Regions from separate parts of the Homo sapiens genome. Here region 2 is linked to region 1. The links come from fine-mapping of genetic effects on gene expression. A gene starts in region 1. The other region holds a variant in brackets. All regions are shown on one strand. Distances are from middle to middle.

Region 1 (9,860 bases):
CTCTTGCTGCCCAGGCTGGAGTGCAATGGTGCGATCTTGGTTCACTGCAATCTCTACCTCCTGGGTACAAGCAAGTGAATCTATATTTTTAAAACTTGAACCAGGCGGGGCATGGTAGCTCACGCCTATAATCCCAGCACTTTGGGAGGCTGAGGCAGGTGGATCACGAGGTGAGGAGTTCGAGATCAGCTTGACCAACATGGTGAAACCCCATCTCTACTAAAAATACAGAAATTAGCGGTCAGGCACAGTGGCTCACGTCTGTAATCCTGGCACTTTAGGAGGCCAAGGCAGGCGGATCATGAGGTCAGGAGATCGAGACCATCCTGGCCAACATGGTGAAACCCTGTCTCCCTAAGAAAAAAAAAAAAAAAAACAACAAAAAATAGTTGGACGTGGTGGCGTGCATCTGTAACCCCCGCTACTCAGGAGGCTGAGGCAGGAGAATTGCTTGAACCTGGGAGGTGGAGGTTGCAGTGAGCTGAGATCATGCCACTGCACTCCAGTCTGGGTGACAGAGCAAGACTCCATCTCAAAAACAAAAACAAAAACAAAACTTGAACCATGATCAGCAATAAGAAGACATTTACGTTATAACCAGTGCAGACCAAGGTATATGTTTCACGAAACAAGACTTTCCCTTGCTCTACAGGTGCATGCATATTTTCTGTCCTATTCTTCTTTTTAAATGCTGGTTGCAACCCACTAAATTATTTCATGTGACTTGCACGACATCCGGCTGTGTAACCCAAAGTCAAGTGACCTCCCCTTTGTTAGCCTCAATGTCCTCATGTACGGAATAGAACACTCATTGATTCAGTGCAGCATGTGTGTATATGGGACACTGCACATTACAGGTTCTCAGTAAATGTTATTATGGCCAGGAGCAGTGGCTCATGCCTAGAACCCCAGCACTTCGGGAGGCCGAGGCAGGAGGATCGCTTGAGACCAACTTGAGCAACATAGGGAGACCCTATCTCTACAAAAAAATATTTTTTAAATTACCCAGGCCAGGCACAGTGGCTTCCCGGGCACCGTGGCTCACATCTGTAAATCCCAACACTTTGGGAGGCCGAAGTGGGTGGATCACTTGAGGTCAGGAGTTCAAGACCAGCCTGGCCAACATGGTGAAATTCTGTCTCTACTAAAAGTACAAAAATTAGCCAGGCGGCCAGGTGTGGTGGCTCACGCCTGTAATCCCAGCACTTGGGAAGGCTGAGGCAGGCGGATCACAAAGCGAGGACATAGCAGAGTCATCCCTTGAACCCTGGGCAGCCTGGTGCCAAAGCTCTACCACTGCCTGACAAACATGGTGAAACCCCGTCTCTACTAAAAATACAAAAATTAGCCGGGTGTGGTGGATGCATGCCTGTAATCCCAGCTACTTGGGAGTGTGAGGCAGGAGAATCGGCTTGAACCCGGGAGGTGGAGGTTGCAGTGAGCCAAGATGGCGCCACTGCACTCCAGCCTGGGTGACAGAGGGATACTCCGTCTCAAAAAAAAAAAAAAAAAAATAGCCAGGCATAGTGGCAGGCACCTGTAATCCCAGCTACTCAGGAGGCTGTGGCAGGAGAATTGCTTGAATGTAGGAGGCAGAGGTTGCAATGAGCCAAGACGGTGCCACTGCACTCCAGCCTGGGCAACAGAGCGAGACTCTGTCTCAAAGGAAAAAAAAAAAAAAATTACCCGGGCGGATGGTGCACAACTGTGGTCCCAGCTACTCAGGAGGCTGAGGCGAGAGAATTGCTTGAGCCCAGAAGTTTGAGGCTGCAGTGATCGCGCCACTGCACTCCAGCCTGGGTGACAAAGTGAGACTCTGTCTCAAAAAAAAAAAAAAAAATTATCATTTATGTTCCTCTTGATTTCTCTTGGCCTTGCAGGCCCTTGCCTTTGTCTCTCTTTTTTTGTCTCTCTCTCTTTCCTGTCTCTGATTCATCCTCTCCCTTGCTTCAATCTGTAAATGTTGCCCTTTCTAATTGAGGTCACACCAAGATCCCCCAAAGTCACACCTACCCCCAAAGTTGGCCAAGCGGCTGATGCGGGAGGCAGGCACCTTGCGTTCTCGAGAGCGGTCACTCAGCTGGGAAATGGGGACAAGGTCTGAGGGTGGGAAAGTGGGCATCGTGGCCAGAGAGTGCAGCCACTCTGCCACCACACCCTTCCCCAAGCTCAGGGGGCCAGCAGTATTCGTGGGGTGTTGCTGGGTGGGTGGGGGTAATGATACCTGGGGCCGGGGTGTCTTCCTGGGACGGGCCTCCCGTGCCCTGCGAATGTCCTCCTCACCCAGGCCTCTCCCAGGCCCATCCTGGTAAAACTTTTGGGCCCAAGAACCTCCACATGGTCCCTGCAAGAGATATACTTTGATAAGGAGGGGAGGACATGGGATCACCTGGCCCTTCTGGACCCCTCCTGTCCTTTTACCCTCTGAAGTCTCCCTCAGCCTCTTCCCCTTGGGGACCTGCTCCCTAGCCTCTTACCCAGCGGTGGGGCCCAGGCCCCAGGGCCCCACAAGGCCAACCAACAGTCTGGCCCAGCTGTCCACCGGTCCCCCGAAGTAGGCCCCCCACCTTCAGCCACATTGCCTGGAGGAGAAGAGGAGGGATTATTCAGGTGGGAGTTGCCTGGCTTCTTGGCCAGGCCCCCATGTTCCTCTGTGTCCACCCTCTCTCATTCCCACCCACTAAATACTTCCTCCACTATTAATAGATTCCCACAGTTTCTCCTGGTTCTCCCCTGGTTGCTAGGAACCCTTAGCTCTTCCTGCAGGCCTCCCAAAACCCACTTTCCCCCCTCTCCCAACCCTCGCCGTTGCTAGGGTCCGCCCCCGTTACTAGACACCCACAGTTCCTCAGGGGCTACCTCTCCACTTCTCTGAAACCCCCCTCGTTGCTATGCACCGCCTTCCCCTCTGTTGGCCCTGTAGGCACCCGCAATTCCTCCGGTGTCCCCCCGCCCGATCCCCACCCCGTTACTGAGCACCTCCCCCCGTTGCTAAGCACCCACTGCTCTCAGCCTCCGAGTCCGCAACCTGCTGGGGCCCTCCTGTGCTTCCGGGAGCCTCTGTATGCCCGCCCCCTTCGGCCAGCCAACCAATGGCGCGGCAGCAACTCGCTGACTGGCACGGAGTTTCTCCATCTGTGCGCGGGGGAAGGGGCCAGAGAGAGGCCCTAGCGATGGAGCCTGGAATTAAGGTGGGCATCGGGGGCCCATCTGGGGGGATTGCTGAGGCATCGCGGGAGCGCAAGCGTGCCCTGTCTGCCCTTCCACTCACCTCAAAGTGCCTTGTACGCGACAGACCCTTCTGTTCCCTACACTTTCTTGCAAAGTCTCCCTTACAAACCTGACGCCTCTCTTCTGCACGAATATCTTGCCAACCCCCCTTCTTATTTTTACCCCTGGCAGGCTCAACACAATTCCTTTGAATACACATTCTTCCCAGCAAACATTTCCCTTGCACATGGAGCCCCTCCACTTTGCACAAACACCCACATTCTGGCACCCAACCTCCTTCCTTGTGCATATAAATCCCTTGCCTTGCTTGCCAACTGTTTCCCGCTCACGCCTTCAACTCTCTCGTGTACATACCCTCCCCCCCACTTGCACACTGAGTCTCTGTTCCCTCACACACCCTGTTCTCTCCGCTCCCCGCCCACCTGCGGAATGGTGCGACTGGGAGCCCTCTGCTTCCTGTAGGCCTGACATTTCCCAGAACACACTCAGCCAAGATTCCCAGTGCTGAGTCAGGAACCTTGGCATCCCAGAAAACCACCTCCCATCCTATCTTTCTTTCTCTGTGTGTGTGTGTGTGTGTGTGTGTGCGCGCGCGCGTTGGAAAGCCTGCTCTCCCCACAACAGGCTGACTCACCCACTTCTCACAGTCTGGAATAGAGGCATCTGGTTGGGGCATCTTTCCCACCACTGGGAGAGGGAGGGATGCCGATGCTTCCCCCACAGAACCCCGCTGCCCCAACCCCTCTTGTCGGGAATCAGGCCTCTTTGTCTCTATTCCCGTACTGTGTGACCTCAGAAAAGCCCTCATCCCTCTCTGGACTTCTCCTTCCCAACCTGTATGAGGTACTAGGTGGGCTCCTGCCTTCGATTTCTCTCATTGGTCTGTGAAAAGGTGACTCATTTTAGAGCCTTGGACCTGTGCCCAATGTCTCCCCCAGTTGACTCAATTTCAAGACAAACCACCTCCTCTCCCCCTTCAGAGGTGAACGGCTGACTCAGGAGCTGGGTGGCAGCTCAGCCTTGGGGGCAAAATATATCAAAATCACCTAGGACAATAAATAATCCTACTGGGCTACAACTGACAGTGCCAGGCCCGGGGCCACATGCTTCACATACATGAGATCATGTCAGATAGCCCCGTAGCTGCAAGCAAAGGGTAGAGGCCGGCAGATCTCTGAGCCTCTGTTCTCACGTGTAAAATGGAGCCCTGGCATCCCTATTGTTCAGCCTTGGAGAATGAACTGAAATCGTGTCAGGGTCTGATACAGAACAAGTACTCTATACATGACAGAGATTTCTTACGGAAAATCCAATGGAGCGTAAGTCATTTGCTCAGGGTAGCGGAGCTGGGAACTGGCAGAGGAAGGTCTCGAACCCACACCCGTGGGAACTCCAAGTCTTTGAAAGTCCGTCCCGCCCCTGCGTGAAGAATGGGCGCGCGGCTGGACTCGTCACCGGGGGTTTTAGGGAAGGTTGAACTTGTCATTCAACCGTGTAGGGAGGGTGGTTTAGTCACAGGGGTGGAGGGAGGGGGCCCACTGGCGCGCCACCAGGACCCCGGTGCCCTAGATGCATACCTGGCCGCGCTTCGGATGCTCAGAGGCAAACCCCCTCCCCTTGGGAGGCGGAGTCGGACAAGGCTCCGTCTCGTTCCGTTCCGTCACGTCCGGTGGGGCGGGGCTTCGGGGCTTTCCCCTTTGAGGGGAGTATCGGTTAACCCTTGCGCGGCGGGGCGGGCTGGAGCTCCGCGGGCCGGAACCCGGGAGTCGGGGCTCCCCAGCCACACCCCTCGCGGGATTTAAAGGGATAGGAGGGGCCGGGTCGGCCGAAGCCCGAACCGAAGGAGCGGGCATGAGGCGCTGCCCGTGCCGTGGGAGCCTGAACGAGGCGGAGGCCGGGGCGCTGCCCGCGGCGGCCCGCATGGGACTGGAGGCGCCGCGAGGAGGGCGGCGGCGGCAGCCGGGACAGCAGCGACCTGGGCCCGGCGCAGGGGCCCCGGCGGGGCGGCCGGAGGGGGGCGGGCCCTGGGCCCGGACAGAGGGGTCCAGCCTCCACAGCGAGCCTGAGAGGGCCGGCCTCGGGCCTGCGCCGGGGACAGAGAGTCCGCAGGCAGAATTCTGGACAGACGGACAGACTGAGCCCGCGGCAGCTGGCCTTGGAGTAGAGACCGAGAGGCCCAAGCAAAAGACGGAGCCAGACAGGTCCAGCCTCCGGACGCATCTAGAATGGAGCTGGTCAGAGCTGGAGACGACTTGTCTTTGGACGGAGACCGGGACAGATGGCCTTTGGACTGATCCGCACAGGTCCGACCTCCAGTTTCAGCCCGAGGAGGCCAGCCCCTGGACACAGCCAGGGGTTCATGGGCCCTGGACAGAGCTGGAAACGCATGGGTCACAGACTCAGCCAGAGAGGGTCAAGTCCTGGGCTGATAACCTCTGGACCCACCAGAACAGTTCCAGCCTCCAGACTCACCCAGAAGGAGCCTGTCCCTCAAAAGAGCCAAGTGCTGATGGCTCCTGGAAAGAATTGTATACTGATGGCTCCAGGACACAACAGGATATTGAAGGTCCCTGGACAGAGCCATATACTGATGGCTCCCAGAAAAAACAGGATACTGAAGCAGCCAGGAAACAGCCTGGCACTGGTGGTTTCCAAATACAACAGGATACTGATGGCTCCTGGACACAACCTAGCACTGACGGTTCCCAGACAGCACCTGGGACAGACTGCCTCTTGGGAGAGCCTGAGGATGGCCCATTAGAGGAACCAGAGCCTGGAGAATTGCTGACTCACCTGTACTCTCACCTGAAGTGTAGCCCCCTGTGCCCTGTGCCCCGCCTCATCATTACCCCTGAGACCCCTGAGCCTGAGGCCCAGCCAGTGGGACCCCCCTCCCGGGTTGAGGGGGGCAGCGGCGGCTTCTCCTCTGCCTCTTCTTTCGACGAGTCTGAGGATGACGTGGTGGCCGGGGGCGGAGGTGCCAGCGATCCCGAGGACAGGTCTGGGGTGAGTGGGACCCATCCTGCCCTTGAGCCACATCACGCAAAACTCCTTATTCCTCCGCCTTTGCTTAGGAAGTTCTCTACCCATTTACTGTTAGTTGCCCACCAGCAATTTCATCTCCGGGAACCTCTTCCATCCACTGACCTCCTCCCTCTGACAGCCAGGTTACTAATTCACTCCAGGCACCCCTTCTTAATTCTCTCCTTTCCCCTTCCTGCACTGTCTCCACTCCTGGGGGTCTACAATGGAGGGCCACTGACCGACTTTATGGGGCCCAGGAACCCCTGAAATTGTAGGACTAAGGAGCCTGCCGTGCGTGTTCACATACATTGTTGCAGCGACGGTCTGACATCTGTCTAATCCTCTGGAATCTGAAGAACACTGGGATAGGGAGACAGGCAGGGTGCACTTTCTACCCCACATTTCTTAATCTGGGGCCTGTGGCTGTCTTAAAGGGTCACAAACCTTCACCACCCCTTAGCCTATTTGTATGTACATTTTTCTAGGGAGCAAAGCGATTCCCCCAGCTTGCATCAGATTCGCAAAAGGGCTGTGTGACCCCAAACGCCAAAGGATCCTTGGCCTAGCCGGGAGCCCACCTGGTCTCCCCTGTGACCCCTACATCCCCAAGGAGCCCCCTGAACACTCTTGTTTACTTTGTCCACCGTCACCCCCAGCTTGGGTGTGGCTCTCCCCTGGTGAATCAGGAGGACCGGCCGGGCAGGTTCAGGGAGGGCGGGACAGAGCAGAGGCCGGTGTGAAACTGGAGAGCCTCACGTGGGGCTGGGAGCCGTGGGGCTGGGAGCCGAGTCCGGAGTCCATCAGCTTGCCAGCTTGCCTGCTGAGGCCTCTTTTTGCTCTGGGGCCCCTGGCTGGAGTCTGCCCTGAGCCCCGCTTCACCCCACATGCCTTCCTTGGGGACGTGTTCACACATGTGGCCCTAGCTGTGAGAGACAGACCTGCCTTGACGTGCCTGTGCCTGTGTGCAGGGGCTGACCCTCCTGGGCCCCATTGCTTTTTTCTCTCTGCCTGCCCTCTCACTTCCTTGGCATCTCAGAACAGCTGAGCTGGAAGTGGGTGAATAATAATAATAATAATAATAATAATAACAACAACAATTAGCACTCACTCATGTTTAGCCCTGTGCTAAGTGCTGTGCTTTTATTAACTCACTCACTCCTCGCAGCAACCCTAATGAGGTAGATACTTTTTTTTTTTTTCTGAGACAGTCTCGCTCTGTTGCCCAGGCTGGAGTGCAGTGGTGCCATCTCGGCTCACTGCAGCCTTCACTTCCTGGGTTCAAGTGATTGTCCTGCCTCAGCCTCCTGAGTAGGTGAGACACCAGGTGCCCGCCACCACACCTGGCTCATTTCTGTATTTTGAGTAGAGACAGGGTTTCATCATGTTGGCCAGGCTGACCTCAAGACTCCTGACCTCAAGTGATCCACCCGCCTCAGCCTCCCGAAGTGCTGGAATTACCAGCATGAGCCACTGCACCCGGCTGAGGTAGATACTATTATTATCCCCTTTTACAGATGAGGAAACTGAGGCACAGAGAATTCAAGTCACTTGTCCAAGGATATCACCTTGCAAGATGCAGATCAAATAATTCTAATCCTTACTGTACACCAGACACTGTTTTAAGTTTTTTCTTCTTTTTTTTTTTTAGTCTTTTTTGTCAATTTTTTTCTGTCATTTTTTATCTTAAAATAGCATCTATCTTAATTAAGGGCTTTGTATGTGTTAACTCTGAGTCCTTATGACAGCACTGAGATTGTCTCCATTCAACAGATGGGGGCCAGGCTCAGTGGCCCAAGCCTGTAATCCCAGCACTTTGGGAGGCCGAGGCAGGGGGATCACCTAAGGTCAGGAGTTCAAGACCAGCCTGGCCAACATGATGAAACCCTGTCTCTACTAAAATACAAAAATTAGCCAGGCGTGTGATGGCGGGCACCTGTAATCCCAGCTACTTGGGAGGCTGAGGCAGGAGAATCGCTTGAATGTGGGAGGCGGAGGTTGCAGTGAGCCGAGATTGCACCACTGCACTCCAGCCTGGGTGACAGAGCAAGACTCGGTCTCAAAAAAAAAAAAACAAAAACAACAGATGGGGAAGCTGAGGCATAGAGAGGTGAGAGATTCTTTGCTTAGGGTTGGCCACGTCAAGTCAGAGCCAGGATTCTAACTCAGTTCTGGCTGAGTTTCAAACCCATCGTTTAAACCCTCCAGTGTGTAGATCTGTTCCTAACTTGTCTCCCTCCCAGGCCTCCCTATCTCCAGTTTTTTTCTCATCCTTCCAGAATCTGCCTCCATGGCCCAGCTTTGTCTGCTCAGGTGCCCTCTCTGAGAGCAGTCAGGGGCTCAGTGCTGCGTTTGGAGCCTCCGGTCTCCAGGCGCCTTCCCAGAATCGACTTCCTTCCCTCCTCCTGACCCCCTCTGCTGTAACTAGGCCTGAGTACACACTGTTCCTTGAACACTCTTCTGTTGTCCTGCCTCCACGCATTGCTCAAGCCGTTCCCACTGCCCAGCATACCCGTGCTTCCTTCTCCCTTAATTTTGAAATCCTCTCTGACCGTAAAGGCTCAGCTTCCTTTCTCCCTTTCCTCCTTCCTTCCTTCTCACCATCCTGTCCTTTTTTTAAAATTGTGTTCTCTTTCTTTTTCTTTTTTTGGTAGGGATGGGGTCTTGCTATCTTGCCCAGGCTGGTCTTGAACTCCTGGGCTCAAGTGATCCTCCTGCCTCAGCCTCCCAAAGTGCTGGGATTACAGGTGTGCTATCCTATTCTTCTAATGAGACAAAAATCACTCCCTAAGCCCCTACCATGTATTTGGTCCTATGTTAGCTTTGCTGGGGAAACAGCAGTGACCAAGACACTCATGGAGCTCCCAGGCCCATGAAAGAGACAGACCAATCAGCCGACAGTCACAGTTCAGAGTGGTCAGGAGGATGTGTGAGCCCAGAAGGAGGTCACTGGCCAGACACAGGGTATCAGAGAGGGCTTCCTGGAGGAAGGGGCATATAAGCTGAGACCATTGTGAAAAAAATCCGAGAAAGCCCAGATAAACCATTGGATCTAACTTTTTTTTTTTTTTTGGAGGGCGTGCAGTGCGGAGTTTCACTCTGTTGCCTAGGCTGAAGTGCAGTGGCGAGATCTCAGTTCACTGCAACCTCAGCCTCCCGGGTTCAAGTGATTCTCCTGCCTCGGCCTCCCAAGTAGCTGGGACTACAAGCGCACGCCACCACGCCCGGCTAATTTTTTTTTTTAGTAGAGAGTGGGTTTCACTATGTTGGCCAGGCTGGTTCTGAGCTCCTGACCTCAGGTGATCCACCCACCTCAGCCTCCCAAAGTGCTGGGATTACAAGCATGAGCCACTGTGCCCGGCCCGGATCTAACATAAAACAGAGAGAGAAGATATTATGTTTATGATTAAGGGGCCAGGTGTGGTGGCTTATGCCTATAATCCCAGCACTTTGGGAGGCTGAGGTGGGAGGATTGCCTGAGCCCAGAAATTTGAGACCACCCTGGGCAACACAGTGAGACCTCATCTCTACTAAAAGGAAAAAAGAACTAGCTAGATGTGGTGGTATATGCCTGTTTTCCAGCTATTCGGGAGGCTAAAGCAGGAGGA
Region 2 (9,860 bases), 28 kb before region 1:
AATTACAGGTGTTAGCCACCACTACGCTTCAAGTTTTTTTTTTTTTTTTTTTGAAACAGAGTCTGCTCTGTCGCCCAGGCTGGAGTGCAATGGCGCTATCTCGGCTCACTGCAATCTCCGCCTCCCGGGTTCAAGCGATTCTCCTGTCTCAGCCTCCCCAGTAGCTGGGACTACAGGCGCCCGCCACCACGCGAGGCTAATTTGTTGTATTTCTAGTAGAGCCGGGGTTTCACCGTGATAGCCAGGACTGCCGGCCTCACGCTTTTTAACACCAACTTCAAACGACTTGGGCTGGTGTCCCAGCCAGGCCGCGCACCCGCACAGCACAGCACAGCGGCCCCCGTCCCCCTCGCCCCGCCGCACCCTGCCGCGCCCACTCACCCTGACCGGGAAGCTGCACGTGCCCTTCCGCACCGCGTCCTCGTCTGCCTGCCACTGGTGCGGGCGCGACGCCTCGGGCACGTAGGCTGGCTTCCTCCGCCGCAGGCTCTGCCGTAACTTGTTCATGGTGCCCGCCCCGTCTGGTGACACAGGACAGTGATGTGGGTCAAGGGTGGGGGTCAGAAGGTATGGAGCTCAACGGGGAGGGACCAGTGCTCAGGGAGCATGGGGTCAGATAACAAGATAACTGGAAGCGGGGTTACAGGGTCAGTTGGCAGCGCACATGGGATCAGCAGCTCAAGTCAGGGGACAGTGAGGAAAGGAGCCAACAGAAGCCAGGGGAGTGCGAAAGTTGGGCACTGGGGATTCAGAACCATGGGGCTAAGGGGCTGGAGGTCTGGGGTGGGGGGTATGGGGCACAGGCTTCAGGGCATTGGAGGGCTTCTTGTCCATGTGGTGGATGCTTCCTCATTCCCAGGGCCGTGAGGACACAAAGGGTGGGAAATCAGACGTAGGAGGGCATGGGGGCTAGAGGGCATAGAAGTCAGGGGCCGCACGGTCAGGGGTTTTAGGGGTATGAGAGTCAGGCAGTGGGGTGATCAGAGGGCAGCAGAGGAGTTGGGAATTGCATGGGTCAGGGGTGCAGGAGTCAGGTGCATGGGGTATGGGGGATGGTGGCTTGTCTCTGGAACTCTGAGACACAGCCATTCTGTGACAACTGTGTCTAGTCCCCAGGCAAGGCTTCTGGGGCCTTGCACTGATGACTGTCAGAGGCAGGGCTGTGGGTGTGTGGAGTGGGTGTGGAGGTGGCCAGCCACTAGGACAGTCTTCACTGATCAGCCATCCTGACAGTCCCAGGACTGGGAGCACCAACAGCAGAGGGGGATGTGTGTGTGTGTGTGTGTGTAAGCAAGTGTGCAATGGTATGTTCTGGAACGCTGTCTATGAGGGGCTCTATATCTGAGCAGGCAAGTAATGTCTGTGAGTGTGTTTCTGAAGGCTGTCTGGAAGAACGCATGTCTGAGAATGGTGTAGGATAGTGTGCATCTGTGAATGCTGTCCGTGAGGGATGCATCCAAAAGTGTGGTTGTTGTCTGTGAGTCTGAGGCCCTGAAGGTTGTTGCTGAAGGGCATCGATGTCTGAGAGTGGTTGTGAGTGTGTGTCTGCTGTCTATATCCGAGAGTGCCGTTGTTGTCTATGAGAACTTGTGGCTCAGTGCCTGTTGCCTGTGAGGGTGTGTCTGTGTTTGAGATGAGGCTGTCGTCTTTCAAAGGGTGTGTCCATGGCTGTTATCCATGTAGCTATGTCTCTGTGTGAAGGTGTGGCTATTGTCTGTGATGACATTGCCTCGGAGAGTGCATCTGAGGGATCTACAAGACTGTCTGTGTCCAAGAGTGCAGCTGTTGGCGGTGAGCCTGTGTGACTGTGGCTGTTGCCTTAGAGTGTGGGTGTGTGGGTATTGCACAGAGGGTGTATCTGTGTGCAGTGGTGCATCCGTTAGGGTGTGTGGGAACATGAGGTTGTCTTTGAGAGTGTTTTCATGAGGGTTATTTGTAAGGGTGTGACTGTTGCCTGAGAGAGTGCTGGGTGTTCTTTGTGAGACTGTGTGCATGTTTGTACACAACCGTAGCTCCCTGTGAGAGCCTGGGCCCGCGGGTGCTGTCTGTGAAAGTGTGGCTGTCGTCTGTAGAAATGTGGGTCTGTGTGTGTTGTCAGACTGTGCAAGAGTGTGTCTCTTTTTTTTTTTTTTGAGACGAAATTTTGCTCTTGTTGCGAATGAAGGCTGGAGTGCAATGGCATGATCTCAGCTCACAGCAACCTCTGCCTCCCAGGTTCAAGCGATTCTCCTGCCTCAGCCTCCCAAGTAGCTGGGATTACAGGCATGTGCCACCACCCCTGGCTAATTTTGTATTTTTAGTACAGACAGAGTTTCTCCATGTTGGTCAGGCTGGTCTCGAACTCCTGACCTCCTGACCTCAGGTGATCCTCCCGCCTCAGCCTCCCAAAGTGCTGGGATTATAGGCATTGAGCCACCACGCCCGGCCAAGAGTGTGTCTCTTGAGAGTGTGTATCTCAGAGTCTGTATCCAGCGAGCGTCTGTGGTCACCTGTGAATCTGGGTGTTGTCTAGGAATGTGTGTGTGTGTATATATGTGTGTACATTAGTGTGATGAACATCTACTTCAGCATGTGTTCAAGTGTGTCACTGCATTAGCAAGTGTGTGTGATCTGAAAGAGATCTGTGTGTGTGTGTGTGTCTCTAACCGTATATCTACAGATGTGAGTGTTTGTGACTCTGCACTTGAGGCTGTAAGGGTGTCAGGGTGTGGGTCTGTGCATGAGTGGGGCTCTGACAGTCGCTGAGGAAGATGCCTGAGGGTGTCCACTCATGAGTGTGATTAAGCCTGTGTGACCGCAGGGACAGCTCCTCTGGTCGTGTTAGGCAAGACCACATACCCATTCAGCCCTGCCCTGTCCCAGGCTGGTCGCTCACCTGGCTCCGTCCTGCAGGTTTCTGGGGGCCCCGGGGCCCCACAGGGGGCTGGGGGCAGGTGCCGCTCAGGCCTCCGGGGTCCGCCCTGCCCGAGTAGGGGAGGAGAAGGTGAGAAGTTTGTCTGGGTTGGGGCTCAGTCTGATACTTCACCCCGACTTTGGACTTCGGCCAGCCCCCTCCATCTTGGGCTCCCTGATGAGAGTCCTAGTTGTCCTAGCAACTGTTACCAGGGAGATCAGCCACCTGGTTCCAAGGGCCCAGGAAGGAGTAGGTATGTTTGGGGGGCATATGTTGGGGATGTGCTGGCCTCAGGAGAGCCTCACTGCCCAAGGGGATGCTGTGAGAGTGGCCTTGCCCTCCAGATGCATGTGCAGGGCTACACACATACGCAGCCAACTCATATCTACAGGTGTCCCTAGCATCTGGCCACAGCTTTACACACTTGGTTACACATAGACGCAATCACAGCTACACACCTCAGATCGCAGATACACAGAAACAGTCCCAAACCCAGAAAGCTGCCACTGTAAACATCTGGCCGCATATTCATGTTCGGACACACACAGTCTCTACTACAGACATTTGTCCACATACATGCAGCATGTCCTGGCCCACTCAGTTCCCACCGCAGACACCTGGTCACACCACCCACTGAAATTTGGTCACTTCCACATTCTCAGCCACATACAAAGAACGGGGCCCAGACAACCCACTAGAGCCGCACATGCGTGGCCACACCCAGTGACAGCTATGTTTCCTCAGGCACCCGCCCAAGATACTGACGTCACAGGCCCACCCAGATAGAATCACACCCAGAGTTCACCCATTTGCTGACCCAGTCCCACACGACACAATCGCAGCTATATACACTTGTTACACGTATCTCCACTGCTGCACACTGACATCTGGTCACAGATGCACACGGACAGACACACATTTGGTCCCACGGAGACCACATGCAGCCTCAACCAGACCAGTCACACCAACACACTGTTTTTGGCCACACACTGTCACGTGGTCACACATACTCAGTCATAGGTGCTCAAATCTGGTCACAGCATCAGTCACACAGTCTATTGTGACAGCCACACTCATAGGGACAGTCCTCTATACACAACCACATACAGAGGTACTGATGGCCACAGCATGCAACCACCCACAAACAACTGTCCCCAAGGATGGCCTCCCTCAAGACACAGCCATGGTGGTCCTATAGGCATGGCCACAGCATCAATGTCCATGTGACCCAGCCACCTATCATGGTCATAATCCCGTCACCCAGTGTCCATACACAGCTGTACCATGTCACTCCAATGCAGCGAAACATATAGCCTTTCTTCATGCAGGCACACAAGTCACACAGACAAGTATGTGGCCATATAGAATCACAGCCCCGTGTGGACAGGTGCACAAAGTCACAAGCCCCACCTACACACATATCTCACACATAGAGACATAAGCACACAGTTTTAGTTTCCCATGTCACAAGTACACAGTCCAGTGTATGCACATAAATGCAGTGACCAGGATGTGGCATTTATAGCTGGGTTTACACAGAAGACACAGGTCCTGACGGAGCCATGTGCACAGTCAGGGGCCAATCTCATCACCAAATCACACATTCTAACACAGGTAGTCCAGCACATACACACAGAGACAAAAACAGGCACACAGCTACAGACCCCACACTCTCACAGATGATGACATAGACACAGACATCTATAGTCACCCAGGGTCAGACATGCAGGTCAAACACAATAATATGGAAGCCATAATCATATACACACCCCTACAAACATAATTTCCTGGCACCAGCACGGAGACACATCCACAGCTTTAGTCACACACAAATAATCCCTCTAAATAGCCAGGGTTTCAGACACCAAGTCAAATACATAACCCAAATCACACATGCAAGGCTAGAAATACACACAATCACTCGTTATCACACACACTGCTAGATACAGTCATTTATATTAATACAACCTCAGTCACACACTCAGACATGGTTCTGCATACGCAACCACTGTCATACACAATACTGTCACACAACCCCAGTCACACAGATACAATGTGACTTCAGACACAATGGCAGTCACACAGGCAGAGTTGCACAGACAGGTGTGTGTCACTCACGTATATAAAATCAGGTAGAGACACAACTATAAACATTGTCAGTCACTGGGAGGGTCACACATGCACATGGAGCCATAGACAACTCCACTCACACACAGTCACAACTCCACCCACGTCCTGTCAGTCACACGCATGCCCACCCCCAGACTCAACACATACTGTCACATACCCAGTTATAGTTACCGAGGCATACAAACACAGGGTCACAAAAGACACAA[T/C]CACAGACAACCACAGTCACAACCATGCACACCTCCAAACACAGACAGACTAAAAAGTACAGGATTCTGCACAGTGAGCAGCTGTCACACACACATACACAGTCACACAGATACTAGGGTCACAGACACAATCATAGACACCACCACAAGCACACACACACGACACAGGATTCCTCAGTCACCAGCTGCAGCGTACGCGTGCACACACACACACACATACACAGCCACAGTCACACAAACACAGGGCACACTCCTAGCCACCTCCCCATCGCTTGCTTCCCCCCTTCCCCCCAGGTACCACACACAAAGCCGCCGTCACCGTCACCGCAGACACTGCAGACAGACAGGGCTGCACCCGGTCCCTGGGGAGCCGCCCCCAGCCCAGCCTGTATCCTGGAGCCTGAGGGCCAGGTCCAGGAGGGGGAAGCGGTGCATTGTCTGCGGGTGGGGCCACTCTTGGACAGCTGGGCAGCCCTGGGGACAAAGGGGGTGGCCTAGGGATCCTGTGCCCTGGGACCCATGACCAAGCCAGGGGGTGGAGGGATTGGGGGTTGCCTGAAATTGTCCTTATTTTATTCAGGCTGGGGTGGGGTGGAGTCCCAGGCACAGGGACCTTGTTTTGAGAAGTGGCTGTGCCTGGGACTCCGCCCAAGGATTGGGGGGATGCTGTGCCCAGGGTGCCTCTGAGACCTGGGGGCAGGCTGTGCTTGGAGTCCCCCTAGGCCTTGGCGTGGTGGGAACGCTGTACCCAGTGACCCCATCCTCGAGACCGTACCTAGGCAGTTGTTGTGCTGAGACCCCCTTAGGCAGGGAGAGGTAGGGATTGTGTCTGGAATCGCGTCCTGGAGGCCTTGGTTTGATACGGGGGCTGTGTCCCCGACCCCATCTCCATCCCCATCTAGTTCTAGGAGTTGTACCTAGAATCTCTGTACCCCTGTCCTTGGTTTTGTGGGGGGTCTGTGTCCAGGATCCCTATTTCCAGGGCCTTGGCAAGAGATGGCCCAGGGGTCTGTGCCCAAGACCCCGGTCTCCTGGGCTTTGGCTTGTTGGGCCTGTTCCTGGACCCCCACCCGGGACCACCCTCTCCAGCCTTGGCACCCTCTCTCCATCCGGGCGCCGCGGCCGCCTCCCACCCTCCGCCACATCAGCAGCGGCGCCGCCCCCGACCCGAGCCCCCCTCTCCCGCCCTTCTCACGCTGGCCGCCGCGCTGCGGGACATCCAGGGCCCGGGCGCCCCCGCCTCCCGCGGCCCTGGCTGGGCCTGGCTCCCCGACTGCTGCTGCTGCGGTGGTGGCGGCGGCAGCTCGGTCTGACGCCGGCCAGGGCCCGGGGCCGGGGGATGGTGCGGGATGCACGCGCGCGAGCCTCCTCGGCTCCCGGGAGGATTCCGTTCCGGGGGCGGGGGAGCGTCCCTCGGCCTCGGCTCCCCGCCCCGACCCCGCCCATTGGCCCGCCGCCTGCCGTATATGCAGAAAGGTCCCGCCCCGCCCCGCCCCTTGGCCTGAAGACCCCGCCCACACGCAGACACCATCCCGCCTTCCCCGGCGCGGCCACCGCCCCGCCACGCCCATTGGCCAGTCCCGAGCTGAGCATGCCTATGAACATCGCCGAGTCCTTTCCCCCGGTCCGTCCTGGCCTGGGCTCCCTTTCCCTCCGTGACACCTGACCTCAGATCCCCTCCAGCTCCGCGTCCGAAAGAGTTGCTTCTAGAGGCGCCTTGCCGCCCCACACCCCCAAATCTTCCCGCTAACCCCATGGTTCCCCAGCCCGGCGGGGGCGGGCAGGAGCGGTGACGAGGCACTTTTTGCAAGGAAGGGGAGGGGGTGTGAACAGACCAAGGCGTCCTGATGCGCGATCGGTTCGGCTTTGGGAACGGGGGCGCCGGGGTGGGACCAGGGCGCGGTTCTGGCCGCTACGGCGCCCCCGCCGCCCCCTACGCCAATCCTGTGGGTTTGGCAAAGCAGCTGGCAGGGACATTAGAGCCCATTAGTAAAGGCGAGGTTGCCAGGAGTGAGGGGAGGGAGCCCGCAGCCAAGAGGCACTGTGTGTGTGGGAGGCCTCAGCTGCCACAGCCCTTAGAGCAGGTGGTCAGCACGTGGGGGGGGGTGGGGAAGGCGAGAAGGAGGTTCCCGGCAACAGATGGCACAGGCAGGGCTGAGGCTTTCAGACAAGGGGGTGCAGGGGGGCTGGCCATCTGCACCTGGAGGCCGCTGGCGAGCTCCTCCCCCTCTCCCCCCAACCCTAGCGCAGAGAAAAGAGCTGGGGGAAGGGGAGGGCTGCTTTTATTCCGATTGAAGATTCAGCTCCCCCCCACCCCGCACCCCTACCTCTCCAACACACTGAGAGGCTGGAACCCGGGAGAAGGCAGCTGTTGGAGGAGCGAGGGAGGCAGAGGTGAGGACTGCCTCCAGGACCATCTCGCCTTCCACGGGAGGCTTGAGGCAGAGGTGAGGGCTCCCCCTGATGAGTCTGATCTGCATAACGACATGCAGCGGCCCAAGGCTCCCTCAAATGTTGGCAAAGATAAGTTAACCGCTTCCCTGGCTTAGTTTTCGGATACCCACTTTCGAGTGGGGAGGTGCAGGATCTAGGGCACGAAGTTGGGAGTTCCCCAGCCCCAGGGATCCTGAGCTCCTGGGCCAAGGAGGAGAGCCAGGCAAGACTGGGAAGCCCAAGGGGGCTCCTCTGACCCAGGGCAGACGGGGAAGGGATAAGAGGCACTACAGCAGGGTACGGCCTGCTCTGGGGACTGAATCCCCCATGGAGGCTGTCATGAGGGATCCACCCAGGAGTCCCCTTTGGTGGGGAGGCTGCCGGCAGTGGCTGCGTCTGGCTGGCGACTGGCCCAGTAGCGGTGGTAGGTGTCCTGGAAGAGGTCCCTGCAGGCGATGTGGGCTCGGAGGTGGGCACAGGCCAGGAAAGCCCCTGCCAGCTTGCGGTGCAGGGCATAGGTCTCCTCGGGTGGGGGACACAGCCGGTGCCGCAGCAGCACCGGGATGAGGTCCTGTATGCGGCGGGCCGTTTCCCCCGACCCAAAGTCATAAGGGCCCTGGGTGGCGAAAGGCTCCCCCAGGATCATCACTGCCTCCACGTGGGCGTCGGAGAATGCCTGGGAGTGGGGGTGGGGGGAGAGCAAAGGCAGCCAGTGTGGACATAGAGCCCTCTGCATAACCCAGAAACAACGTGTAGCCTCCACTCCCTCCAGTCTCCACCATCAACACAAGCCCCGACTCCCCCAAGAGTGAGCAGCTTCCACTCCTTCCAGAGCCTGGACTAGACAAGCAGCTGCCTATTCCCCGAGTAAGCACCCCTTACTTCCCTGCAGAGCCTCCAACAGACAAGTAGCCCTCTACTCTCTCTACAACAGAGAAGCGGCCTTCGCCCCTCCTGAACAGATCCACGGTGCCCATGTTCCCAGGGTTCCTGAGAAGTCAGGCAGCCACCTCCCCCCACTCCTCCCCAAAGCCCCCAGCATGGATAAGCATCCCTCCTAGAGTCACCCACTCCCCAGGTATAGACACACAGCCTCCATTCTCCCTAGTGGAGACAAGCCCCTCCTAGAGTCCCCCAGTCCCCGGGTATCGACATGCCCCATCACCTACTCGAGTTCCTCAGTGGAGATAAGCAGCCCCCCACTGCACCCCACCAACAGACACCAGCCCCTTTCTCCCCCAGTGTCTCCCCACCTTGGTTTCAAAGCCTGTGAGGAATTTGAGGTCCCTGGACTTCTGCAGGACACAGTCTCTGTCTCCATCAGCTGCAGCCTTCACCACCTGGGGAGACGGGTGGGAGTTAGAGGGACAAAGGCCGGGGCTCAAGGGGGCTCTGGAGAAGAGGAGCTGGAAGCCTGGGCCTCCCATGTACCCACCTCCATTCTCATCTGCCTGGGCCCTCCCTCACCTGGAAGCTTCCTGCTCCCAACTTTGCCTGTCTGTGACTCCCTTAAAGACTCTTCCAGAGCCTGGGAGTGGAGGTGGTTAGGGATCCTGCCCACCTAGAGGGCAATGTGGGGCCTGCCCGGGAACTGCCACAGTGAAACAGTGCAAGAAACAAGTGTCAGGGCTGCTGGTGAGTCCAAACACTCAACTGGACGGGTATGAGCGTGACCCAGAACTGCATCCAAAGTTGCCAGGGGCCATCTCTCTGTCTCCCACACTGGACTTTGAGCCCCGTGAGAGCAAGGATCCCAGTTGGGTTTAGTCGCACGGGGCACAGGGTCTGGTGCTGAGGAGGCCCTGGGTGAACCTTGCTTTAGCAAATGAGCGTGTGGAGCAGAGCAGCTCTCCAGCCATGAGCTCACACACACAGGGCAGGAGTTGTGGGCATGGAGAGATGCCCAGCTGGGGCCAGCTGGCTAGGGTTCCGTCCCAGCTCTGCCACCTGCCGGCCTGTTGGGCCTCCACTTTCTCATCTGTGAAGTGGGGATGCCAAAAGTGCCTTCCTCATGGGGCTGTTGGGAGGATAAAGAAGGTGATGCCTGTGGCCTGCCTGGCGCTGTGTCTCATGCAGGAAGCACCGTAAATACTATAATCTACCATTATTAAGAGGTGGGCACGGGGGTCCCTATTTCACAGAAGGGGAAGCAGACCCGGAGTAGGGAGTGGAACCGGGTCACACCACTCACTACTGGG

Evidence for each region. PIP is the estimated chance that this variant, and not a neighbour inherited with it, causes the effect.
Region 2: its variant is fine-mapped to the expression of COQ8B in cerebellar hemisphere (GTEx, PIP above 0.99). The same link has a PIP of 0.9 or more in cerebellum.

The regions. Positions count from the first base shown.
Region 1 is chr19:40,712,054-40,721,913 of GRCh38, forward strand. COQ8B (coenzyme Q8B) reads right to left here and starts at 4,833. Exons shown (of 15, transcript NM_024876.4): 1 at 4,534-4,833; 2 at 2,478-2,582; 3 at 2,225-2,344; 4 at 2,014-2,080. The coding sequence starts at 2,579. ITPKC (inositol-trisphosphate 3-kinase C) reads left to right here and starts at 5,059. Exons shown (of 7, transcript NM_025194.3): 1 at 5,059-6,237. The coding sequence starts at 5,083. RefSeq lists silencers at 3,580-3,629, 4,950-5,309 and enhancers at 4,300-4,379, 6,883-7,584.
Region 2 is chr19:40,684,036-40,693,895 of GRCh38, forward strand. NUMBL (NUMB like endocytic adaptor protein) reads right to left here and starts at 6,616. Exons shown (of 10, transcript NM_004756.5): 1 at 6,425-6,616; 2 at 2,876-2,960; 3 at 382-521. The coding sequence starts at 6,448. It overlaps COQ8B (coenzyme Q8B), which reads right to left. Exons shown (of 15, transcript NM_024876.4): 14 at 8,916-9,002; 15 at 7,495-8,338. The coding sequence ends at 8,000. RefSeq lists enhancers at 3,489-3,783, 4,907-5,846, 5,520-5,569, 6,785-7,722 and silencers at 6,409-6,748, 7,069-7,308. The variant T/C (reference allele first, on the strand shown) is at 5,230.